Homo sapiens: one gene and its partners. The protein of the gene in region 7 purifies or fractionates together with the protein of the main gene of each other region. This does not show direct contact. Each region holds a gene or a part of one and is shown on either strand. Other genes may lie near its edges. The genes, in order: MELK, NAV1, RASAL2, TESK2, TANC1, KIF13B and AGAP1.

Evidence for each region.
Region 1: the proteins of AGAP1 (region 7) and MELK purify together in Homo sapiens (affinity purification with mass spectrometry, with the first as the bait; one large-scale study listed by BioGRID). This does not show direct contact.
Region 2: the proteins of AGAP1 (region 7) and NAV1 purify together in Homo sapiens (affinity purification with mass spectrometry, with the first as the bait; one large-scale study listed by BioGRID). This does not show direct contact.
Region 3: the proteins of AGAP1 (region 7) and RASAL2 purify together in Homo sapiens (affinity purification with mass spectrometry, with the first as the bait; one large-scale study listed by BioGRID). This does not show direct contact.
Region 4: the proteins of AGAP1 (region 7) and TESK2 purify together in Homo sapiens (affinity purification with mass spectrometry, with the first as the bait; one large-scale study listed by BioGRID). This does not show direct contact.
Region 5: the proteins of AGAP1 (region 7) and TANC1 purify together in Homo sapiens (affinity purification with mass spectrometry; one large-scale study listed by BioGRID and IntAct). This does not show direct contact.
Region 6: the proteins of AGAP1 (region 7) and KIF13B purify together in Homo sapiens (affinity purification with mass spectrometry, with the first as the bait; one large-scale study listed by BioGRID). This does not show direct contact.

The regions. Positions count from the first base shown.
Region 1 is NC_000009.12:36,673,895-36,678,182, reverse strand, and holds the end of MELK (maternal embryonic leucine zipper kinase), read right to left. Parts: intron 3,350-4,288; coding exon 3,246-3,349; intron 1,024-3,245; coding exon 846-1,023; 3' UTR 501-845; downstream 1-500. UniProt on the Homo sapiens protein: Serine/threonine-protein kinase involved in various processes such as cell cycle regulation, self-renewal of stem cells, apoptosis and splicing regulation. Has a broad substrate specificity; phosphorylates BCL2L14, CDC25B, MAP3K5/ASK1 and ZNF622.
Region 2 is NC_000001.11:201,780,127-201,783,626, reverse strand, and holds part of NAV1 (neuron navigator 1), read right to left. Parts: intron 3,207-3,500; coding exon 3,068-3,206; intron 2,616-3,067; coding exon 2,318-2,615; intron 1,452-2,317; coding exon 758-1,451; intron 222-757; coding exon 1-221. UniProt on the Homo sapiens protein: May be involved in neuronal migration.
Region 3 is NC_000001.11:178,454,104-178,457,603, reverse strand, and holds part of RASAL2 (ras GTPase-activating protein nGAP), read right to left. Parts: intron 3,158-3,500; coding exon 2,956-3,157; intron 905-2,955; coding exon of another isoform or gene 884-904; coding exon 705-883; intron 1-704. UniProt on the Homo sapiens protein: Inhibitory regulator of the Ras-cyclic AMP pathway.
Region 4 is NC_000001.11:45,355,164-45,358,663, forward strand, and holds part of TESK2 (dual specificity testis-specific protein kinase 2), read right to left. Parts: exon of another isoform or gene 3,489-3,500; intron 287-3,488; coding exon 140-286; intron 1-139. UniProt on the Homo sapiens protein: Dual specificity protein kinase activity catalyzing autophosphorylation and phosphorylation of exogenous substrates on both serine/threonine and tyrosine residues. Phosphorylates cofilin at 'Ser-3'. May play an important role in spermatogenesis.
Region 5 is NC_000002.12:159,174,640-159,178,139, reverse strand, and holds part of TANC1 (protein TANC1), read right to left. Parts: intron 3,188-3,500; coding exon 2,956-3,187; intron 1,789-2,955; coding exon 1,622-1,788; intron 1-1,621. UniProt on the Homo sapiens protein: May be a scaffold component in the postsynaptic density.
Region 6 is NC_000008.11:29,256,571-29,260,070, forward strand, and holds part of KIF13B (kinesin-like protein KIF13B), read right to left. Parts: intron 1-3,500. UniProt on the Homo sapiens protein: Involved in reorganization of the cortical cytoskeleton. Regulates axon formation by promoting the formation of extra axons. May be functionally important for the intracellular trafficking of MAGUKs and associated protein complexes.
Region 7 is NC_000002.12:236,039,543-236,043,042, reverse strand, and holds part of AGAP1 (arf-GAP with GTPase, ANK repeat and PH domain-containing protein 1), read right to left. Parts: intron 2,293-3,500; coding exon 2,202-2,292; intron 1-2,201. UniProt on the Homo sapiens protein: GTPase-activating protein for ARF1 and, to a lesser extent, ARF5. Directly and specifically regulates the adapter protein 3 (AP-3)-dependent trafficking of proteins in the endosomal-lysosomal system.

The DNA of each region.
Region 1 (4,288 bases), on a different chromosome or scaffold from region 7:
ATAAATGAATGACAAAACATTCCCTTCACTACTGACCAGAAGGAGTGCTATTTTTTCTCCAACTAGTTTAATTGGTGAAATCCATACCAATATAACTTGAGTTCTAGCCTTTGGAGACCAATAAAATGAAATAAAAATACAAATTTGGGGCCAACATTGAGACTTAGGGAAATTACCATAAAGTAACATTTCAGGGGGGGTTCATAGTTCGGATACTTATCATTTGTTGACCAAACATACTTAAAGTCAATACTCTTTTATTCAACATATTAAATGTGTTGTTTAACTCTGGTAACCACAGCTGTGACAGTTAACGATCTCAATAAATCCTACTTAAATCAGACAGGAAAAAATTATGCAAATGAATTCTTATCTGTTTTTCTGCCCAAGGCATATTTGATAACAGATAAAACATACTCCAAATAGTCTCTACTTAATAGTCAGGAAGCCATTTGAGGTTTTATTTGGATCAAAATCAAATACAAAAAAGAGAAGCCTGCTATATTCACAAATGGTTTTATTTCAGAAAGAAATTACACATTACAAAGAGACATAGTTAAGAGCTTACATTCACATATGGAAGTGAATCTAAGAAAGTCAACAATTATTAATATACAAAACCACATGATTAAAAAAGACAGTAACATAATGACAGATGGGCTTGATTTAGATTCATACACAAAATAATATCTTTTGTTTAAAAACAAAGAGATATTGGTCTTAAGATAGCTCTTTAGAAACAAGTTGGTAGTTCCAATGAACTTTAAAATCAAAGCGATCATAACAGTCTTTATGTAGGCTGTATCACACCCACACTCATCCGGCAGGATGGAAGAATCCATCAATTATACCTTGCAGCTAGATAGGATGTCTTCCACTAATCTTTTGTAAACCCAGGCATCGCCCTTAAGCCGCTGCCTCCTGATACCCACCACATCGGGTTTTTGAAGCTGGCACACTTCTAATTCAAATTGCATTGTCACTTTCCCAAAATCTGACTGTGTTTGACACTTCAGTGTATAACTGTGAAAAACAAGATAAGAAGCTAGTTAGTAGGAGAACCATATTCTGTATAAGAGTTTTCTAAGCCTCTAGGAGGCCAGTGGAGGAAATGAACCATTATTTCATATTAAGCAATGTATTACTGTTTACAGTTTCCAAATGACCTAGCTATGCTTTAGTAATAGAGTATGACTGGTGTTTTCCCAGAAACTGAACTAGGATCCTAAGAATAAGCATGAAAAGGCTTTATTACAAGTCTCCCTTGCTCCAAAGAAAAGCCCCTGTTTCATAGCTATACATGCCATTCATGCTCAAGAAATCTGGCATTCTTTATGCAATCCTTTCAACGTGTAATCCGCAAACATTGGGCATTTCCACAACATTCACAACAAAGGAAAGCGCAAGAAAGATAATATTTCATGTGTGTGAGCCTTGTCAGAAACTTGTCTTTCATATAAATAAAGCTGAAGCCAGTAACCTGTCAGAAAGGCACGTGTGTTTTTGAGGTTTTTCTAATTAGTAATGAGAGATAACCTCTTATGACGATCATCACATCACTTTATGGCAGAAAGAAAAGCAGAAGAAAAAGCCCAAGGAAATGGTATATTCCCATAACTGAAACGTACGGCATTTATAGATAGAACTGCCGCATTATCTACTCTGAGAATGGAAAGGCCCAGTCAAAATGAAGCCTGAAACACATCTTAAGACATACGTATGATCCTGCAAAGCTGTATAAATTTAATTCATGTAATAATATTTAATTAGTTTACATTCTATTTTAGAGTTTTGTTTGTCTTACCAATCTTCAATAAATAGGACTGATTTTAAGTTTCAATTCCCTAAATACTTAAGGGTTCCTGATTAAGTGCTGTTCCACAGATGTGTGGAGAAGTTACATTGTTTCAGTTATGTACTTTTTTCTGTTTCATACTGTTATGTACCAAAATATTCTTTTTCTTACTAACTTAGTCATGTGTTTTGGGAAAGAGGCTTGATCTCTCAAAAATAAGCAGTCAACATCAAAAATGCCAAAAGGAGCACCCTGAAGTTAAGATTCTTGACAAGAAGATGAGGCATAGAACAATTTAGTCACATGTTAGATAATAGATCATTGAGAGACCTGTGACAGAGGTATGCCCAGAGGCTCATAGCCCCAAGCATGAAGAAGAGATCAGAGTGGGAGAGATGTGTTCTAATGAAGCCTGAGAGGAATGCCAGGGTTCACAGAAGGAATGCTTGCCAACATTTACAGATAACTAAAAACTAAAAATTATATCTGCACAAGATTGTTTCTTCAAATCTTACTCTATATTGACTATTCTATTTACATGTTTAAATCCATGCATGTCTCTTCTGGTTGCTTTAATAAAGAAATTTTAAAGGGAAATAATTGAATGGAAATGCTTAGAAATACGGCCATCTTGGGTGACCAGAAGAGGCCTGGCTATTGAGACCAGGAGATCATAACCAAGGAGGCTTTGATGGCAGTTCCTTCAACAGCGGGAGAGAGGTAAGGTGAAAAAACTTCCTAAAGCACTGAAAACCCAGCCCTGTAAAACAGCCAGTCATGAAGAGAAGGATTCTGTATAAATCCCTGATTCATTTGAAATGTCTCACAAATTTAGATTATAATTTATAAATATTATTGTAAAGCAGACAATCAAAGGAAAATAGAGGATCTACAAGAAAGCCAGAAGAATTTTGAATTTTCCTATTTTGAAATAAAGTGGGACAATATCTGTGCTTCTAAAACTTTTATAGCTTGAACCAAACAAAAGAGAATAAATTATAAGCAATAACACTACCTCAAAAGCTTTTGGGAATGAGGTGGGAGAAATACATTTTTTCTAAAGCACAGGGGTGAGGAGATCAACTTCTATTTTCTCTTTTTTTTGAGACAGAGTCTCGCTCTGTTACCTATGCTGGAGTGCAGTGGTGTGATCTCAGCTCATTGCAGCCTCCACCCAGGTTCAAGTGATTCTCATGCCTCAGCCTCCCACGTAGCTGGAACTACAGGCATGTGCCACCATGCCCAGCTAATTGTTTGTATTTTCAGTAGAGACAGGGCTTCTCCATGTTGGCCAGGCTGAACTTGAACTCTTGGCCTCAAGTGATCTGCCCACCTCAGCCTCCCAAAGTGCTGGGATTACAGGCGTGAGCCACCGCGCCCAACCAACTCCTATTTTCTCAAAGTCCAAAAGATACTAATAAATGCAACAGCTTGTAAATGTGCTTCTTACCCCTTTTGTACAAAGTCAACATGCTTCTTTGGAAGAATAGACATTATTTCATTCAACAGTTGATCTGGATTCACTAATCTAGTTGTAGTCACGTTATAGTGAAGCTAAGAAAAGAAAAAGAAGAGATGAGAAGTAAATTTTTACATCAACACAAAGACCATCACACCAGATCAAGAGTTCCAAAACTCCTCAATATAGTACTGTTTCAAATGGAACTATTTCCTAAAAAATATCAAAGGAATTTACAGTCAACTCTTAGTGAGTTAATGGCCCACTGGGAGAGCTTGGAGAAGTTATGGTTATTAGTAAACACACCCATAGCTTCCTTTTCATACTTTCATCTTCCTCTCCTACCAATCCTTTTAAAGAAATAAATATTAAAGAGCACCCATCTAACTGTTTGAGCTTTGCCTATTTTCCCCTTCCCACACTATTTTAAGAGACATTAACAGTCCTGAAATGTATACCACGGAAAGATAAACAAACACCATACAAAGTTTGCTTTGTACCTAGTTGGATATGTTTCCTTAACTCTTTCTGGATTATTTAAAGAATATTATAGAGTTCCAGGAGCTGATTTTATGACAGTTCTATGAGGAAATAAATGTAACAGGTATTCCTTTAAAAAAGTGATGTCATATTATTTTTTCTCATTGACTGAGAGCCTAATTCTCAGAGATAATTTCATTCCTAATTGATATTTATCCTTCATTCATTCAACAACTACTTTTGAATGTTTACTATGTGGTAGGCACTGTTTTAGTGGGTCCTGGACACACAAAAATCCCTCCCTTCCTGGTAAGTACCTTCACTGTCAAACAAAACCATAGTTTCTATATCTTTCAGGTTTGAGTTCATTGTATAAATAACAAAATGCCTAGGAAGAAAAGTATCCAACTATCTTACTTTTCAAAATAAGAACCTATGGCCCAAAGAAGAGATACAAATTTCTTAAGGTAGTGCTTCTCATAGTGTGATACAAGATAGACAAGGTAATTCTGGGTGGCACATGGATAAATATTTTTAAATATGTATTTGTTCCC
Region 2 (3,500 bases), on a different chromosome or scaffold from region 7:
GGCCCTGGGAGAAGCTGGCTGAGTTAATATTGAGGATGGGTGCCGGACTGGGGGTGAAGCAGGAAGGGAGAGGGCCCCCAGATGCTGAGCTTGTAGCATGCAGATCTGGGACCTTTGAAGCATGGGTGGTATCACTGGATGATGGTAGATCCAGACTGTTGGAGTTGACCTTGTCAAGATTGGCTAGTGAGGGTGGTTTGACAAAGCTCTTCGCTGTGGCCCTGAGAGAAGATCAAACGAAATATTTAGAATAATAGAATTACAGAGTGAGAGGCAGATAGGACCTTAAAGAAATCCTATCCAGTCTTGTTTTCTGCCTATTTGCTAAGCACAGAGGCTTATCCTAATGCTGTTGTGAAATACAATGCAAGGAAATCTGATACCCAACTTGGGGCACATTCAGCTTAGATAAGGGGCCAGCATATGCACATGGGAGATACAAGTGAATTTATGCAAATAGGTATATATGTGTAAATAAACAGTAAAAACACCCATACAAGTGCTGAAGACAGGGTAAGCATTGATCAGAGAATAGTACAAATGAGGTAAGTTTTGAAAGAGGGATTCAGTCTTTCAGAACTGTCAGAAACTAGATTCTTTCAGAACCTTGGCATATGGGGGAGAGGTGGGAAAGAGCCATGCAAAGGCCTAGAGACAACGGTGGATAGGCCATGCCTCATCTAGTCCAAGGAGGGCAGAGATATGCGAAAGAATGACAAAGCAAACAGACAAGGAGGCGGCTGCCCACATTGGGTACCTGAGAGGGGTTGGTGGCAGCTCTGCCAGCTTGGTGGCTGTGGGGTGGCTTGCTTGGTTCTTGGGAGTACTTTCTGGGGAGCCAATACTCTTCAAGGAGATGTTGTCTGAGTCCAAGGCCACTGCCTTGGCTTTGGCCTTCTCCTTTTCCCGATCTGTCTGATTGACAGGGGCTGGAGTGGTCCGCCCACTGGCTACCTTGGTAGGCTCCTTCAGTCTGGAAGGCGTAAGGCCTCCCTGCTTGGTGCTGAGGAGACTGGGGTCAATGCTGCTGCTCACAGGGCGAGGTCCACCCCGCCCGCCGGTCACGCTCATAGAACTTGACTTGGCTGGCCGGGGCAGGCTGCGGTACTGGATGTTAGAACGGGCTCCAGGAGCCAGGAATCCTGGCTCTGCACTGTTGGAAACATCTAAGCTAGTCTTGCGCCCATTTACTGGCTTGACAGGGATGCCTGAGGACTTCTGGATCTTGCTGAGAGTGGCTGAACCACCAGTTTGCATGACAGTGGCTGTGCCTGTGGCAGGAGGAGGCTTCTTGTAGCCAAAGGATCCCGAAGTGGAGGGGCGAGCAATGCCCGAGGGGGGCTTCTTAGCATCACTCAGGCGGTCCCGACCAGCATCAGAGGAGGAGCGTTGGAGCCCAGTATTCTTCACTGCAAGCTTACCCTTGTCTGTAGCTTTGCCCTCAGGTTTGCCTGCAAGAGGACGGGAAATGAGAAAAGAGCTGAAACTGACCAGTATCTTAAAAACCCACCCTTTTCTTTCCCTCCATGGGAGAAGGGAACATTGTCCATGTATTGTAGACTTTTAGAGGCCTAAATTTGGGTAAACAGGTACAAGATAAGCTGATAAAGTTTCTTGTCTGAAAGACTCTGGCTGGGAGGGGTGGGGAGGCTAGGAATTTTTTTTGTTTTGCTCCCAGAGTAGAATGGTCCATTTTGATTAAAAAGGCAGAGGCAAACACAAAGATGATCAAGAATATCCATCTAACAACTAGTTGTGGAAGGGAAAAAAAAGGTGGGGAAGCAAATGGAATAGAGTATGACAATATCTCTTAGTAATTAGAGACTACAGGAAAATGTTGATTAAGGCTAAAAGTTACCCAAGGGGCCAACTTTGGGGGCACTATAATTCTCTTGCTGTAGCCATTTTATTTATTGTTTTCTTAGGATCTTCCTGAGATGTCAAGCTGTATCCTATGAAAATAAGTGCCTTGAGTGACTAACTTGGGAGAAAGAAGAAAGCAAGCATTGGAAGTGTTTGGAAGGAGGCCAAACTAGTCTCTAAACATAATATACTTCCTCCTGTACCTCATATTAACTGGGATTTTGGCCCAGCCACTTAATCTCTTTGAGTTTCTATTTCCTCCACATTTGTAAAATGGAAATAATAACACCCATCTTTCCTAACTCACGGGACTGTCCTTAGACCAGATAAGATAATGTCTGTTAAAGCACTATGCAAATGTTTGCTATCATCCTATGGGTTAATGACCACTAAGAAGAGGAGCAACCAAAGAACTAGGTCTTTGCCCTTGTACCTTCCTTTATTCCAGGCTCACCTGCGACTTTGAGGGCACTCTGGGCTGTGTGAGTGATGGGGGAAGTTACAGCCACAGGTGGGGTCTTGCCCTTCTTCAGGGAACCAGGGTGGCCCAGGCTGATGGGCTTTTTCAGTTCTCCACCCTTGGATGAATCATCACAGCTCTCAGGCCGCTCCCTCCGCCACTTAGAAGTCCCAGGTTCCATCTTCAGGCTACCACTGTCGTACTCCAGTTTTTTAGGGGCTTTCTCCTCTGATTCACTAAACCAGCTCAGCCCACTTTCTGCCAGTGAGCGCTTCTCTGAGTCTGTGCGTAGCTAAAGAAAAGAGAAAAAGGCAGAGTGAGATACTTCTATGCAGATGGGAGACTGGATAGCTGACAGGATTGATTTTAGTTAGTACCTGGCGCTGCTCATCTCAGAGTATTAAGTCAAACTGAGGGTTTCTACCTATACCCCTAGGGTTTCCAACAGCAGATGACATATATCTCGGGGTTTCTTTTTCTCCAGTTGGAATAGCTCTTACATGTATCACTCTAGATTGGTGTAGGCACTAAGTATACACAATATGACAACATCTAATGTCTTGGGTGAGTAGCCTTAGCTTTTTTTGGGAGGGGGTGGGGGCAACTCTAAAATGACCTGGCCAAAGGCCTATGAGAACCAATCCCATGGAGTGGGTGTGTACGTGCAACCCCATACACAGATAATGCCATTTGCCCTGTGGTTCATCTTGAGATGGCAGCTTGGGTGTTTGCAAACTCACGTACCACTATTGTTGAGTTCCTGCGAGAAGCAGTGGGAGTACTTGGGAGGGAGTTGAGTGAGGAGCTGGCATTGAATTCTTCTGAACTGAGATTGTCTGAGGCATCGCTGAGTCCACTACTGATGGAGCTGCTTTCATCCCAGCTACAGGACAGGAGAGATGAAGGTCAATCGTTAAAACAGAAGCCCAGGCAAAAAATAAATGTTTCACATTGATGCAAGAATGGCTCTGCACCAGTATATAGGCTAGCCAAAAGGAGAAAACCTGGGGGTTTGTCCTAGGTTTGTCAGCAACTCAAAGTGTGACTTAAACTTCCTTGTAATTTGGTGATGTTCTTTTACAAAAGGAAGAGACTCTGCCTTTATCTGGCAAGAGAAAACGTTGTATCTTCTTAACAGAAAGGTATTTTATAAAGGCAAGGTAATTTTTGGATCAAT
Region 3 (3,500 bases), on a different chromosome or scaffold from region 7:
CTCCTCCGAAGGTTCTTATGTGGATACGTACATTTCTTTGGAAACTCAGATTTTATCTAATTAGGGAATTATTACAATGCTTAGAATAAAATCCAGCATTTTTACTTTTTCCCCAAAGGTACAGAATAACACTGTAGATACCAACCCATCACTGTCTTCAGTTTTAACCAGGATTCCAATAATTTCCTAGTTAGGTTTTAAACCTTCCCCAAATATTCCAATTCATACTTACTTGTCTAAACCTTCAAGAGAAGAAGTTCTAAGCACACAACTGAAAGGTCCCTGCAAAAGGCACAAGTCTTGCCAATCCCTAAAACAGTCTAAGCATCGACATTGTATCTACCTGTCCAGTTGACATAGCCAGCTATAAAATGGTTTTAACCGAGGTTCTCCAAGATTTTGAATGCTATAACGTACAGAAACATGAATTTCATAAAGCCTTTAGTCTTCCACTAAGCAAGACAGAAATTTTAAAAATATGCTTGTGGAATATATTGTAACTCTCTATACTACCATTCTAGAAAATAAGTCATCCCAGATCTTGTGCATTATTATGACAAATAATTGGACTGCTCTCAGGTCAGATGAGTCTTCAGTTGCTCATGATTTTAAACTTGTAAATTCAACAAATAGGTTGAATATACTTCTGCTAAATCTAAACATTATGTTTCTCCGAGATAGTGGTCAAATTCTCTCTTTCATACCTGTCAGTGGGGTCTTCAAATATTTTCTGCAGCCCAGAGGAGAGGCTTCCACTGACATTTGGACTGGAGTTATGTTCAGTGAAGCGTCTCAGTTGCTGTTGTATTGGCGTAGGATTAGTCAATGACTTGGTAATATCAGCAAGAACACGAGGGAGAGGCCCCAATTTTGCCACGGTCGCCTGTAGGAAGGAATTTTCACCCTAATTGGATAATAAGCATTGCGACATCCACCACAGATTGTTTTTGGCACAACGATGGCCATTGATGGAGGGGTGTAGGTTGGAGGGAAGGGTAAGTGTTTGCATATGGGAGTGGCAGGTTCATAATGCATTGTTATGGAGCAGCAGAACCATGGCGTCGAGATGAATGGAGGAGGCGAAACAAGGTGCGGCAGACATCGAGGAAAGAAAGGAAATCGAAATCAGGATTATGCAAGTAAAAATTAAAAGACATGCTCAAAACTACCAAACTAATGCCATTCCAACTAAAATAGGCATGCGAAGCAAACTAAATCTTTGGGAGGCTAGTAGATCAAGGTGGGGGAGGGTGGAGGCAGAACCAAATTCCTTCTAACCAAAAGAACTTCAAGATCAGAGGATCAACTAGTATGATAAACTTTCAAAGAAAAGGGATCATGTGAGAAAAGAAATGCATGCCAACATATAAGAAGGTGCTCATTCAGGAATCCAGAGTACTGCAGGGCACACAGATGATACTGCCATCCACTATCCCAGTCAATCTTGGGAACCCTGACCCACTGCCAACTGAGTTTCCATCAGTAAGACAATTTTTATTGTTAATTTAACAGCAAAATCAGGTAAACTTCCTCTATGAGATATGTCTAGATGTATTCCTGGTTCCCAGGACCAAACACAGATTAAAAAGGAGAAAGTGTGTTTACATAGCAAAGCCCGTTAAAAAGACTTTGATCCTGAATAAACCAGGCCCATTTCACAGGAAAACTGAATCTGCATTCCACTGAGATGCAGTTATTCAACAAAGACGAACTCTTTAATACTTGCTTTATCCATTTCAATCATTTTTTTATTTAGGGAATTCTTATTCTCATGGGGTCTTAGGGGTCCCCTTCAACTGTCAGTCAGTTTGGCATAGCTGCCTTTGGGTCTTTGCCTTCTCAACAATCAACAGACTCTTCTACCCTACTCAAACAGGGATAGATGCCACCAAGGCCTTTACTTGCTCAATAATGTTGGGCTACGATTCACATGAAAAGGGTTTATCTTTGGCATAGCTGCAACTTAAAAATCTAGCTAGCATTTCTAAAAGTGAAGAAAAGGTCCTCGAGAATAAGGAACAGTTTATTGTTTTACAAATATTTTAAGCACTGGAGGACACATTACCACATATGTTTCCTCAGCAAAGTGGTCTTTGTTAATAGGTTTTATTCCCCTTCAAATTTTACTGATATAGCATTTTTATTGATAGGAAAATAGAGGAAAATAAGTAGATCATTATCATAGAAAAATGACTGTCTTTTGAAGTTATTCTAACATACCACCACACATATTTATAAAGTGCCTGTAGCAAACAAAAACATCAATAAATAATTATTGTAATAAGCCTAGCCAACGTCTTTTAGACTATTTTTTACTACCAAATCTATTCCTTTTTGTTAAATTCCAGAAGGAAGAAAATGATTGGCATGGTGTATATTTACTTATTAATACGGTATATAATAAAATTCTTAGCAAACGATTAAAAATAATTGCTTTCTGTATTCTTAATTCACATCTGTAAAGAAAGAAAACAATGACTGTTAGCACTAATAATTATATGAAACTCTATGACTTGTATAGTAAAAAAATTTGTTTCATGGGTAGTTACTTAAAACATGATAAACCTAGTATTTTCTTAGCTAAATCTATACTTTTATTAGAAATTACTATATGAGGTTTCATCTTATCCTATTAGACATGCATAAGGCTGTATATACCAATATATTAGTTTCTAGTCAAGTTTTCAGATATGCACTCTGTATATATAAATTTAGAGAAATATACTCCATTAATTCAGATAATTATTAAAAACATATATTAATAATGTCATGGTTTTCTAGAGTTTCATGGTTGTCGATCTCATATTTTACTCAGAAATGATGACCATTTACTCTCAGATTTCTAGGGTAAACAGTTGCTTTCAATTAGCAGAAAGAGTGAGTGCTATCACTCTATAGTTACTTTCCAGAATTCAGGTACATTAAAGTTCTCTATCTTCCACCAACCTACTTTACCTTATCAAGTTGGGAAACTACTTCCCACAGTAAGGAATGCAAAACTGAAAGCTCTCGGCCCAGATCAATGTAACCATCAAAGCCTGGGGTGTTTGAGATGGTGTCTGGATTAGAGATCTCCAAAAGAAAGCGCTTCATTCCACCCCATTCATGTTCTAAAAAATCATTCATGAATGCCATGTATTCCTCTTTGTTACCAAACCTGAAGTAGAGGATGAGAAAATGAGAAAGAACATATTCAAGAGAGATATGATCATTTTGATTTGACATTACACAGAACTATTACTTTTTTTTATTTTGTGGAGGGAATGACTAATTTTGTTTATTATCTATAAGTGATAAATGTTATAACATACTTTCTTAATATCACTTTAATATTCTAATGCTTTGAGAATAGCTTTCTATTCTCTCTAAAGGGTAAAGCCAAAACTCCTTTTTTTTTTTTTTTTTTTAGTTCTGGGATTTAAATTTCTCTGCAATATAGCCCTCACTTACCTACCAAAAGCTCACCAGTACAAACCTTCAATACTGCTAGCTTCTACAAA
Region 4 (3,500 bases), on a different chromosome or scaffold from region 7:
GATGTAGGCTTTCTAAGGACTAACTATAAAATATAATGAATTATGTCCTCTGTGATTAAATGTTAAATCTAACACAGCTTTCTTGGCAAAAGAGAAGGGTGGTATCTCTCAATGAGTTGTGAGAGTAAAGCCTTCATACCTTAGATGTGAGGTCCCGATGAAAAATGCCTTTGAAGTGAAGGTAGCTGAGGCCCACTGCTATGTCATAGGCCAGTTTTACCCTCACAGTCCAAGGCAAATGCAGGTTACTGTCTAGCAACTGTTCCAGGTTCCCGGAGTTGATATACTGCAAAACAGAAGGAAAACCCAGCTACCATTTATCAGAAATATTTAGGCTAGTGGTGAAACCATTAGAGAGTAAACACCTGGAAGAGAGAGACTGTATTTTTTTTTTAAGTTACTGAGGGCTTATTCTGCCTCCAAGCACTATGGTAGGTGCTGCACACAATGACACTTTCCTTTAAGGAGATCACAATCTATTAAGGGACATAGTCAAACAATATCATATAATAAATATTAAAATATAGTTATGTGCAGGTAGGACAACACCATGCAGCAACAAGGATAAAGCTAAACTGTGGAGGCATGTCAGAGGAAATGCAGAGAGGAAATAAGGAGTCAGAAAGGATGACCTGGAGTAGCAGGAAAGTAGCACGAAAGACACAGAGGGAGCAGCATATGCAAAGTTACAGGTTAAGTGCATGATGCATTCAGGAACTTAATTTACTTCGATATGGCCAGAGTGCATTTATAGATGAGTCAGGAAGTGAGGCTGACATGTTTTGCTAAGATATGTGAACTTTATCCTGTCTATAGGAAACAAAAGAAGCATTTTAAGCAGGAGAGCCACATGGTTATATTTGCTTTTTAAAGAAAATATTATTTTAGCCATGGTATGATAGATGGATTAGAGTGAAAAATACAGAGAAAGGGAAATAGGAGATTACTGCAATAATCCTGGTGAGAGCAGGGCATCTGAATCATGGCAATAGTGGAGGCATTGGAACAAGGCAAGATTCAAAATGTATTTAGATGGCAGAATTAAAAAAAAAAAACTTGATAATTGCCTGGATTAGAGAATGAGAGCAATAGGCTATTGGTCCCTGGATGTCATTTTTAAATACCCAGAGAGCAAGGAGAGGAGTAGGTTTTTAGAAGAAGAGGCAATGTTAAAAGAGAGTGAGTTCAGGCCAGGTGTGGTGACTCATGCCTGTAATCCTAGAACTTTGAGAGGTAGAGGATCGCTTGAGCTCAGGAGTTCAGACCGGCCTGAACAGCATAGTGAGAGACTTAGTCTCTACAAAAATAAACAGAATTAGCTGGACGTGATGGTGCACACATGTAGTCCTAGCTACATGGGAAGATCGCCTGAGCCTGGGAGGTTGAGGCTGCAGTGAGCTAAGATCATGCCAATGCACTCCAGCCTGGGTGATAGACAGAGCGAGACCCTGTCTTAAAAAAAAAAAAAAAAAAGATAGTGAGTTCAGCTGGGAGAAGTTAAATTATTAAAGGTACAGGTGCTTATTGGACAACCAAGGTGGAAATGATCTAAATAGAGTCAGTTTGAAGCTTAAGAACAAAGTCTAAGTGAAAGACAATATTTAGGAGGCAAAAACATTGAGCTGAAGCAGTCATGCATTCCAAGGTCATGCATGCCCAGGGTTTAACATGTAAGATGGGAAATCAACAGAATCCCAAGGAACAGGCAAGAATGTCAATAGGAGAACATTCTAAATGTTCAGAAGGACGGCCGGGCGCAATGGCTCATGCCTGTAATCCTAGCACTTTGGGAGGCCGAGGCGGGTGGATCACCTGACATCAGGAGTTCAAGACCAGCCTGGCCAAGATGGTGAAACTCTGTCTCTGTTAAAAATACAAAAAAATTAGCTGAGCATGGTAGCAGGCGTCTGTAATCCCAGCTACTCAAGAGGCTAAGGCAGGAGAATCACTTGAACCCGGGAGGCAGAGGTAGTAGTGAGCTGAGATCGTGCCATTGCACTCCAGCCTGGGCAACAAGAGCTAAACTCCATCTCATAAATAAATAAATAAATAAATAAATAAATAAATAAATAAATAAATGTATGTATGTATGTATGTATGTTCAGAAGGACAATGACATTCTACATGTCAGAAGGAAAGCATTCTACAAAGGAAATGACTGACAGTATCAAAAGCCATGAATGAGGAAGACGAGCTTGAAAGGTATCCACTGAATTTGCAACCAGGAAATCATTGGCAACCTTGGACAGAGCAGTTTCAGTAAAGTGGTTAAGACGAGTAAGACTGAAGTGAACAGAGGAAAGAGTAGCAGATAAGGTTATGGAGAAACTATTTGAAGATAGTCTTGCTGTTCATCATTCCTAAATACCCATGAAGGGCAGCTTTGCTTTTTTAGTAAAAAAAAAAAAAAAGAAAAAAAAGTGAATAAGGCTGGGCACGGTAGGAGGCCAAGGTGGGAGGATCACTTGAGGTCAGGAGTTTGAGACCAGCCTGGGGAAAGTGGCAAAATCCCGTCCCTACAAAAAATACAAAAATTGGCCAGGCACGGTAGCTCCCAGGGGTGGGATCATAGTAGCTAACACCTGTAATCCCAGCACTTTGGGAGGCCAAGGCAGGTGGATTACCTGAGGTCGGGAGTTCGAGACCAGCCTGACCAACATGGAGAAACCCTGTCTCTACTAAAAATACAAAATTAGCCAGGCATGGTGGCGCATGCGTGTAATCCCAGTACTCGAGAGGATGAGGCAGGAGAATCGCTTGAACACGGGAGATGGAGGTTGCAGTAAGCCGAGATTGCACCATTGTACTCCAGCCTGGGCAAGTGACGGAGTGAAACTCCGTCTAAAAAAAAAAAAAAAAAAAAAAAAAGCCTGGGCACAATGGCTCACACCTGTAATCCCAGCACTTTGGGAGGCCAAGGTGGGCAGATCACGAGGTCAGGAGATCGAGACCGTCCTAGCTAACATGCTGAATCCCCGTCTCTACTAAAAATACAAAAAATTAGCCGGGCGTGGTTGCAGGCGCCTGTAGTCCCAGCTACTCGGGAAGTTGAGGCAGGAGAATGGCATGAACCCAGGAGGCGGAGCTTGCAGTGAGCCGAGACTGTACCACTGCACTCCAGCCTGGGCAACAGAGCGAGACTCCATCTCAAAAAAAAAAAAAAATTAGCTGGGTGTGGTGGTGTGTGCCTATAGTCACAGCTACTCACAGGTTGAGGTTGGGATGATCACTTGAACCTCAGGAGGTCAAGGCTGTAGTGAGCCATGATTGTGCCACTAGATTCCAGCCTAGGCAACAGAGAGAGACCCAGTCTCAAAAAAAAGTGAGTAAGTATATGTATTTATAAATAATAATAGCAGCTGTTATTTATATAGTATCTAAATTGTTTCAGGCACTGTTCTGAGAGTTTTGCATATATTATCTCATTTAATCTGCACAATAACCCTATAAGGTAGGTACACTGGTACTTTTTTTCCTTTTTTTTTTCATGTCAGACAACG
Region 5 (3,500 bases), about 77 Mb from region 7:
GCCAAGATAAAAGACATCCTTCTTTATGCAGCAAACACTGGGGCTGTGTAACCCAATCAGGAAATCTGAGTCTGCCCCTGGGCTGTGTCTCAACGACAGCGCATCTTAACAAAGCTGCCTACTTTGGTATAGCACGTTATTTTATGAATTGCTTTTTTAAAGTAAACTTTTAAATTGAAGTCTAACAATGAACATATGATTTGTGTACAAATGACAATTGCACAGTGTCACTAATTTTCACTAAGTCAAATATACCTATGTAACCAGCACCCAGAAACAAAACATCCTCAGCTCCCAGAAGCCTCATGTGCCCTTCCCATCTCTTCCCCATTCCAAAGATTAAGCACATCTGACACCTAAAAGCAAAGAAGAGTTTTGCCTTTTTAAAAAGACTTCCCACTATTGTTTCTGAAGTATTTAAATGCACGTGCTCATTTAATATAACAATGTAGATAAAGAGGGCAGAATACAATTATTCCCATTTTACATGGATGCTATCTGAAGCTCTGAAAACTTACACAGCTGGGAAGAAGAACGTAAGATTCCTGGTTCCTATGATCTACTGATGGACAAATTGTGCTTACTATGTAAAAAATGACTGAAAAATATACAAACTGAATGTCCAAAAAACACGCATCAAGTTCAACTGAGGTCTAATTTCAGTTTTTATAATGAAAAAATTCCAAATGCTGTTTTTAAATAAATATCATAAAAGGGCAAAAATCAAAACCTAATGTCTAAAAGTCTTCACTGAAAAAGGATAGGTATAGAAGGAGTCAATGGTTAAGACACAATTTCAGGGTTTAAGTGAGGAAGAAGATGGAGGAGAAAAAAAAAATCACCCTACCCCTCGCTGCAAATGTTACCTCATGCTTAAGTTTTGTGAAAAAATAGACCTCTGGGAATAGGCCTTAAAAATGTTTCACCTTCAGCCAGGCACAGTGGCTCATGCCTGTAATCCCAGCACTTTGGGAGGCCAAGGTGGGTGGATCACCTGAGGTCAGGAGTTGGAGACCAGCCTGGCCAACATGGTGAAAATCCGTCTCTACTAAAAATACAAAAATTAGCTGGGCATGGTGGCAGATGCCTGTAATCCCAGCTACTCCGGAGGCCAAGGCAGGAGAATCACTGGAACCAGGGAGGCGGAGGCTGCATTGAGCCGAGATCATGCCACTGCACTCCATCCTGGGTGACAGAGCGAGACTCTATCTCAAAAAAAAAAAAAAAAAAAATCTTTCACCTTCATTTTTCCCTTCAAAAAAACACAAAGCCCCACAGTAAACCCTTGCAAATAACTACCAGCAGGAGTAGCTTTAAACTCTGGCAGGCCTCTTGGCCCCACACACTCCATGACGGTAACCAGGGCTAGATGCCACCATTTGAAAAGTGAACGTGCAATTCGATGCCAACAGGAAACTTACCTGACATCTTGATAAATATACCTGGGGCTAAAAAGGTCAGAGTTTCACCCAAGTCTGGCTCTCTGGACTAGTTTTTCAAATTCTTAACATAGTTTCCAATTCAAGCAGCTGAATGGTTTACAACAGTTTTACGTTATTAACATTTATCACTGTAAAATTGGAATGGGGACTTGGAGAAAGATTTGAGAATTCTTTGTTACCTGAAAATTTGCTCTTACAGTCACAATCAACTTCAACCAGGCAGGAAATTTAGAAATAATTTTGGTAATAAATGAAGAAAGCGTATCTCCATAATCAGGTTTATGAAACTCAGCTTCATTTAAGCCATCTATCAAAATAATGTATTCTTCTTCAGGAATTTTCTGCTCTACAGGATAAAATAATTTTTTCAAATTAAGAAATTATACATTTCTCTAAGACAGCAACACCCAGTGTATTTTAGTGCCCAGTTTAGTGTTAGAAACTAAAAAGGTTTACATATGGCACAAGAAACAGTTTTCACAGAAGCATATTTTCTATTAAATTTATAATGAAAACTGGAGCACAGAGCCAAAAGAAAACCAATTCTCACAAAACAAACATATTGCATGACACATGTTAGCAGAATCTCACTCGTGTATATAACACAGTTAGCTCTTCATAAACCACTGTCATTGGGGTGGGCTACACAAAGATAATGAACACATACAGAGGCCCAATCCGGAAAGGTCACTAGGTCCCCCCATGAGAGCTCCCCAGTGGATTCCAGGGAAGGGAAACTGACCCCCTCGCTGCCCCCAGCCCAGGGCAAACTGCCCTGGCCAAGCCATACAACCAACACAGCGTGAGAGCTCCACGCTACCGACTCCTCCAACAGGGCTCTTCTCTGCGAGCCTGAATCTGGTTTTCTATTTATTAGTGCTGATTTTCTGCCCAGGCAATAGAGAAGAAATGATGACATATCTGTTTTCTATCCCTCTAGCACCTTCCAGCAGAGGTGCCATGTGGGCAAGTAAACAAGCTCAAAAGGTGAGGAGTCCAGGGCAGAGAGGATGGGAAACTGAAGGGCCCATCAGGTCACTGATGTCCATTACCTTGTCGGGGACAAACAATTAAAATGGAAACCTTTAGAAGTCACTTTAAGGTTTCAATTCAACTGAGCAGAGGCCCTGACAAATATATATGCTGGAAAATTCCTCCAAATAATCCACTTATTCCCTCAGATACTTAGGAGTGCAAAATACGCAACAGTCTTCTGTGGTGCAAGTCACCTAAACAGCCCACACTTACAAGCTGACTACTTTGGAACTGCTCAGTCATCACATTCATTCTTATCAGGGTGCTTCTTTTAACACTATACCATAGGGGTGGTGTAGGAGCGACCTCATGGGGCTGGTTCTGAGAAAGAGGAGTGGATGGGCACGGAGGCTTCGACATCCTCTCCATGCTCCACCTCACTTCTACCCCAGCCCGGCTGACCACCTGCCTTCTGGGGACCACCTGTGTCTGCTGTACCACTACTGAGATGGGGCTGTGGGTAGCTGCTGCGAAGTACCATTTCTCAGGTTTGTGAGTGGCTCCAGCACTCCCCTCTTGAAAGCTGCCACCGGGTCCTGCACACAGGATCGGAGGCTCAGCATGCTCTGTAGTTGGGGCTCCTTTATCAGAAGGTCTCTGTAGGCGGCCAGCTGATGGGACCGGCAGAGCAAAGCTGCGATGCTGTGCACAAACTCGGGCACCAGGCAAGTGTACGTGTTGTCAGCCTGGCAGTAGTGGTAGGCCACCACCTAGGGGGAAGCAGAACCGTCAGCATCACCTCACCCTCTTCACACAGCTCCTTCTGCAATCTCAAACAGGAACACAACTCTGCCCATTCGCTGGTAACAAGATACATAGCATCTATTCCCCAAGACTGGGTCATTTGTTAGCATAATTGTTCCATTTATTCCTTCCTTCACTTATGTGGTTTGCAGACCTTTAACTGCATCCACAAAGCCATCTTGATTAGCATAAAAATCAGCACAAGTTATTTTTTTATTTTTGTATTTAATATAAACAAACAGCATTCATAAAACCTAAAACCTACCCTGGCTTACAGCA
Region 6 (3,500 bases), on a different chromosome or scaffold from region 7:
TATGCTTCCAGTTTATCCTGCACATCTTTGAAAATGGTGTCATCTCAGGATAGCAAGATCCTCTTAAAGATAATCATGTCCAACATTGTAGTAAAAGCACAGGTGGGTTTTGTAATTCTGGGAATGTTAATTAACCTCTCTGAGGTTCTGCTACATAGAAATGCTACAATTACTACTTTTTTTGTTTGTTTGTTTGTTTGTTTTGAGACAGTCTCGCTCTGTCGCCCAGGCTAGAGTGCAGTGGTGCGATTTCAGCTCACTGCAACCTCCGCCTTCCAGGTTGAAGCGATTATCCCACCTCAGCCTCCTGAGTAGCTGGGATTACAGGCACTCACCACCACACCCAGCTAGTTTCTGTATTTTTAGTAGAGACAGGGTTTCACCATGTTGGCCAGTCTGGTCTCAAACTCCTGGCCTCAAGTGATCCACCCACCTCGGCCTCCCAAAGTGCTGGGAGTACAGGGGTGAGCCACCACACCTGGCCTACAATTCCTTTTCAAAGTCTGGTTTGAAGAATAAAATAATGCATTAAAAAGCATTGAACTCCATTGCTCGCAAATAGAAAGTTGTCAAAAAGCAGCTATTTTCTTTTTCTTCAGTCAACACTGTTGAAATGAATGACTAATGGATACCATTTTCTAAAGATATCTTTATCTCCTCAGAGCGAAAGCCCCATACAGTTAAGTCATGGACTTGCATGGAGTGGACCAGTTAGTTTCACGCACTTCCCAGGTCACAGGGCACACTGCTCATCTTGGTCGAGTTTTTGTTTTTTTTTTTAAAGAACATGCTCTGCCAAACACAAGGGGAACTTGAGGAGCAAGCATAGAGATCAATACATCCATTTCCACTCAATCAGCACTTCAATCCATCTCCTTAATTAATAGTTTTGTCAGTGGTTTCTTCCATTTTCAGCACTTAAGAAGTGGAAAAGTCGGACAGTTATTGTTTTATGGAGGTGAGAGGGTAAAAGCTAATGCCAATTAAACAACATTGTATTTTATATTATAAATGTATATTTCTTGAAAAGAGGTCTGGCCAGCCAGAGCAACAAAGTGAGACCCTATCTCTACAAAAAATATTGAAATTAGACAGACATGGTTGTGCACACCTATGTACCAACTCCACAGCAGGCTGCAGCAGGAATATCGCTAGAGCCCAGGAGGTTGAGGTTGAGGATGCAGTGAGTGATGATCATGCCACTGCACTCCAGCCTGGGCAACAGAGGGAGACCCTGTCTCAAAAAAAATAAATAAATAAAAACAAAGAAACCAACCAACAAACAAAAAACAGGAGATTTGGGGAAAAGAATTTAAAAGTATACCTTCTTCTCAAAATGCCTCTGGCCCTATGTGCATATATCCAAATTTCAGTCACTGAGTTGACAGTAGAAACAAAACAATGTTGTAATACATGTGTGTCTCATTCACCATTAGCATGTCAAGCAGATGCTGACAAAACAAGTATCTTCTGTTTTAGCAAATACTGCCAGAAATTTCCATCCACGGTCCTCCTTGGCTCCACATCTGTCAGTGATCTCTCTGAGAATACTGAAGAATCACCAATGACCCCAGGGGTCAAAGCCACCTTCTCCTGTCCCTTCATTTCCTAAGGGTCACCTCTATCTTCACTGACTACCAGCATCTTCTAAGCTTCCTCGCACTTGCTGGGTTTTTCCTTTGCCTGTTGATTCACAGCTGCTTAATTTTGACCGACTTCCTTATGCTTCCCATTCACAAGGCTTCATTTTCAGCAAGCGCTTTTAAATCCTGCCCAGCTATGCCAGAAATCGGTCATCTACTGAAGCTTCCAATCTTGCTTTGGGATCTAGCAATCTTTCCCCGTTGTGTTTGTGTCCAAGCCCCATACAAGGTCCCAAGAAGCAAAACAGAGTGCGTGGACCAGCCACCCTAGGTCCGGACTTCTGGCCTGGCTGCTTTCAGGGCTTCCTGCAATCCACCTGACCTTTCCTGTCCCATCATTCTCTAGCTATCCTCACAGAATCTCCATTCTGGCAGGCAGATCTCATCTCTGCTGCCTAAACCTGCTTTACTCATTCTAGTCTCTGTGTCCTCACTCTCAGGCCATACTTCCTCCTCAAAGAATACATGCCATCCCCTCTCCCGTGCTCACATCATAAGCTTCCTCCCTGGAAGTCCAACCAAAGTTCACCCTCCTCAGTGAAGTCTAAACTCCTCTCGATTCCCTTATTTCCCTGTCATTCACCTGGCACTTAGTAACTAGCAGCCTGCTACAGCTGTTTACCTTTTAATCTAATCTTTTCACAGGCATTTTCTTTTCAAGCCCATGACAGTCATTTCCTCACAGGCATGAACCATAAAGCATGCTTTAAGAAACTGAATATGATGGTAACAGGCAACCCTAAGAAAACTTTTAGGAAGTAAAATCCCCCTAACAAGAACAATCAATTTCACTTTTTCATGTTTCTTTCTAGCTCTTGCCCATTCCTGTATACATTTTTACATAGTAATAATAATAGATTTGATCAGTTACACGTACAGCTTTACATTCTTTTTCCACTAACAGAGAAAACGATCTTCCTTGTTAAATGGTTTTGACTGTCATCATTTTAATCGCTGTATAATAGTCCCTCCATTGAGATACTAGATCATGATTACCAAGGCACTGACTCTACATTGACTCTATTAGACATTATTACATACTTCTGTGTCTTTCACCACATCAAGTATTGGAAAATGCCAAGTAAACTCATTTGAAATATCTCCTGAAATAAATTTCTTGTCCATTCTCCCTAACACCTGAAATAATCTATTTCACTGTTTCTATCTTCATTTCTTTCGTTTCCCGGTTCTACCCCCTTAGGCTAGGTAGGTAACAAAGGTATTCCAAACACCTTTTATAGATATTTACTTATTTTGGTAGTTGATCTTATACAGATTTACACACAGGAAATCCCTTGAGGAAAAGCATTAAGATCTCATCCTATCTAATATAAGCCAGATACCTGGCAGGCACTCAATCAATGTTTGCTTACCTATTAAATGTTTTTTAAGCCACCTAAAGTTAGAAAACATCAAATTCCTGGAAAGGAGAATGTTGCTGATCTAACTAATCCCACCAATTACGGCTACAGAACTTTCAGCTCCTGTAATGATTAGACGGGTTAATAATGTATGAATGGGTGTTCTGTGCGGCACATGGAAGCACACAAGAATTATCTGTTTAGCTGTACAGTCTGAACAACAACACTGGAAAACAAACGATATCTGCAAATAGAACTTGAAGATCTTGTGACAAAAATTTACCCTTTTCTCTAGTTGTTTAGCTTTGCATCTCAGATGAAGAAAGGCAAAATAAAGGTTGTAATATTAAAATTATGTAAAATTACATACACGTGTGAGCACAAACTGGCATGGAAATGAAAAGCTGTTAGGATGAAGAAAGTATGTGAACTTTTTTCTTTTTCTTTTTCCTTTTGTTAGTGGAATGTTAAAATAAATGTATGACTAGACAAATAT
Region 7 (3,500 bases):
AGATGGGTTTGAATCCTGCTTTGGGACTTGCTATTTCTGTGACCTCAGACAAATGACTTGACCCTTCAGGCTCCTCAATTCCTCCCCTTTAAGTGGGGCCCACAGGGGCACCAACTACTAGGGTTGCAGAATGAAAAGACAGCGCATGGGAGGGTTTGGCACCGGGCTGACACAGACCACACATTTAGCAAATGCGTGCTTGGTATCGCCTCTTTCTCCTGAATTGTCAAACTCTGCCTTTTCCCTTTGTCCCTGTCCATCTGCTCAGGTGGTCTTGCTCAGAACAAACTGGCCCACACCTCCCCTGCACTGGCCTCCCTTTCCCACCCCCCATCCGCACTCACATGCACAAGCTCATCTCAGACAGGACCTGCGACCTCCGATTTGCCAGGTATCATGGTCCCCGCAAGCCACGGATGGCTTTCCTTTTAAAGCGACCTTCAGACGCACGGTGGAAACAACTGCAGGCATTTTCCTTAATGGATGTTCTAATATTTCTCAGATTCGTGCTTTTAAAAAAGCTCTTACTTTTAAAACTTTTTGATAGAAACACACTTCAAATAACTGCTTCTCTCTTCGAACTTCATTTCACCACACATTTGAAAGTAAAACTTAAACATTCAAACATAAGGAGGTACTTTAAAGAAGAACCTCAAGATACCTGGAGAAGAACCCCTTCCCTCACCCGCAGGACAGGCTTCCAGAGAGGCCGCAGACAGACTTTTGATCTCTCCCCTGCCTGCTATGCTGCTGAGTGGACTCTTGGAGGGGGCGCTTCCTTTCCCTTTTGTCTGGAGCAGTCCTGGGCTCCTGTCTCCCTTCCCGGCCAAGCCGACCCTGGCTGGCCTCCTCCCTGCTTTGCCTCTATTCCAGTATGTTCAAAATGGTCTGGCCAGATCCATCTCCCCAAGTGGAGCTCAGGGTCCATCTCCTTCCTGCTCTAAAACTCCAATGATGTCTCTCTGCTTACAAATGAAGAACAAAGCTGGAAAAAGTTTCACTTGGCACTCACACTCCAACTAGCTTCTACTGGTTTTCCAGCCCAAAAAGCATCTCTAATCCTACAACCACCCAGAGAAGCTCTCCTCAAGCCACTCCCTTTGCTCACAGTGATTCCTTCGGCCCCTTCCCTGTACAAACCCTGCCCATCTCCAGAGCCCTGCTGACACGACAGCTCCTGCATGGGTGGCAAGACCGCCGCATGCCCCCGATGGCTCTCCCCAGCGCTTAGCTCCATGGTCAGCAGGTTGGTGCCTTGTCCAGTGCATTTCAGGCTTCAGGATGGCAGGACCCACCACGCCATGCACGTTTGACTCCTGGGCAGCACCCAGCCTGGTACCAGCACCTCTTACCTTGTTTGAACTGAACTTCCTTCTCTTCAAAACACTACTTAACAAAAAAAATCTGAAGGGAAGAAATTTACTGAATGTCTCCAATACTGTCTCTGGGCTGGGACTGCAACCATGAAAATAAGTCCCTACTCTCAAGATTATGAACAACAAAATGACTTTTTCAAAGGGAAAGTAATAGTATGGATTAGACAACGGAAATCATGAAATAAAACTGGGGTACTCGATGGCACAAAGCAGTAATTACAACTTCTATCAGTTCAATCAGAGGCTTTAGTGGGTAATGGATTTAAGACCAAAAAAAAACAAGACATCATTTGATGGCAAAACCCAGAACATATGATTGTGAATTTAAAAAAACAATACCCAAGAATCTCTAGGCAGGAATGAACCAATTATATTCTATTTTTATGAAAAAAAAAAAAAATCAACAAGTGATCACTGATTAAGCAAAAAGTAAGCCAGCTGCCACGCCTAGTTAATTTTTAATTTTCTGTAGAGACGGGTTCTCCCTGTGTTGCCCAGGCTCGTCTTGAATTCCTGGGCTTCCTAGATTTGGCACAGGCTGTGGGTGTGGGGTTGAATCCTTTGCACCTCAGGTATGACTGCTGCTCATCGGATGCCTAAGGCAAGGAAAGACTCACAGAAACGCACCCTGCAGCCAGGGGTGAGGCTTGTGTGGAAGGCACTCTGTTAAGGTAAAATCCAAACAAAATATCTCAATTTCCTAAAAGCAGTTAACTCTTATCTGCCAAACAGGACAGATGTGAGTCCCCTGCAACCCGGGCCTAGTGGGACCATGTGGTCTCCAGCTACACAGCGCCAGCCCCTGCTACCACCGCACACACTTACTCTGGGTCTCGCAGTCCACACAGTGGGAGTTCCCGCGCATGTTCCGGATCGACTGCAGGGCCATGGCCTCGCTCTGGCTCGTCAGCCGGGACTGGGCACGGAGGAAGACACAAATACAAGGCGTAAGCACCCCGGGAGAAACGCACATCACTGATAACATCAGGGAAAGATCAAACAGATTGGGAGCAAATGTAGGACGAGGGTAATTTCTAAACAATCACTCTTGTTTTGATGTCTTTGGGAAAGAGCATAACTGAAGAAGAAATCATCATGCATGGGGCGGGGGGAGGGAGGAAATGTCACATTTTAACTCATCAGCTGAGACGGACTCTGCCAGAAATGAGCAAAGAGGAGAGTTCTGGATCATCTGTGAATACGCATGGACCATGGTAACCTGGAGAAGGTAAATGGGTAACCTTCTGGGCAGTAGCCACATGTCTACTTGGTAAGAAGAATGAGAAAGAAATAATCCGTTTATAAGCCCAGGGTTAGGGCTTCATCAGCAATGTAAGACATATCTCATGGTTCCTTGTCAGAAAACCCCATTCATACCACACGTCACCCTGGGAGATGCACATGTCATCTGAAGACCCTCGGTTGCCACAGTGACAAAGCCACTCGCCAGGGTGGGGGCAGGGAGAAACACGAGTATAGCTGGGAGTGCTGATTCTTAACCTTACACTTGATGGCTTGCTTTATTTTTATTTATTTATTTATTATTATTATTTTTTGAGCCAGTGTCTCGCTCTGTGGCTGAGGCTGGGGTGCAGTGGTGTGATCATAGCTCACTGCAGCCTTGAACTCGTGGGCTCAAGTGATCCTCCTGCCTTAGCCTCCTATAGTGTTGAGATTACAGGTGTGAGCCACCACACCTGGCTCTATGGTCTTCTTTAAAAAGGATTTAAAAACATACATGCTCATTGAAGCAAGTTTAGAAAATACAGAGAGGGGAAAAAGAACATAAAATTAATAAACAATCATACGGCCATCCATAGTTAAGCATTATTAACATTTTGATGTCTGTTCTTTTAGCCTGTTGTTTAAGCACATCTACATACACATATGTACTTTAAAAAGCCAGCGTAATACATATTGCTGCATAGAAACCTGCCCTTTCCAGCCTAACGAAACTTGTTCATTGCTCACTGCTGTCACATACTCTCTGACATCATCATTTTAAATGGCTGCATAGCATTCCACTTAGTGAAGACCTACTTATCAAGTTCTCTTTGATGGACATTTAAGTTGCTTCCAATTTTTCTCTATCATAAACGATGCTGTAAGAACATATGATTGCTA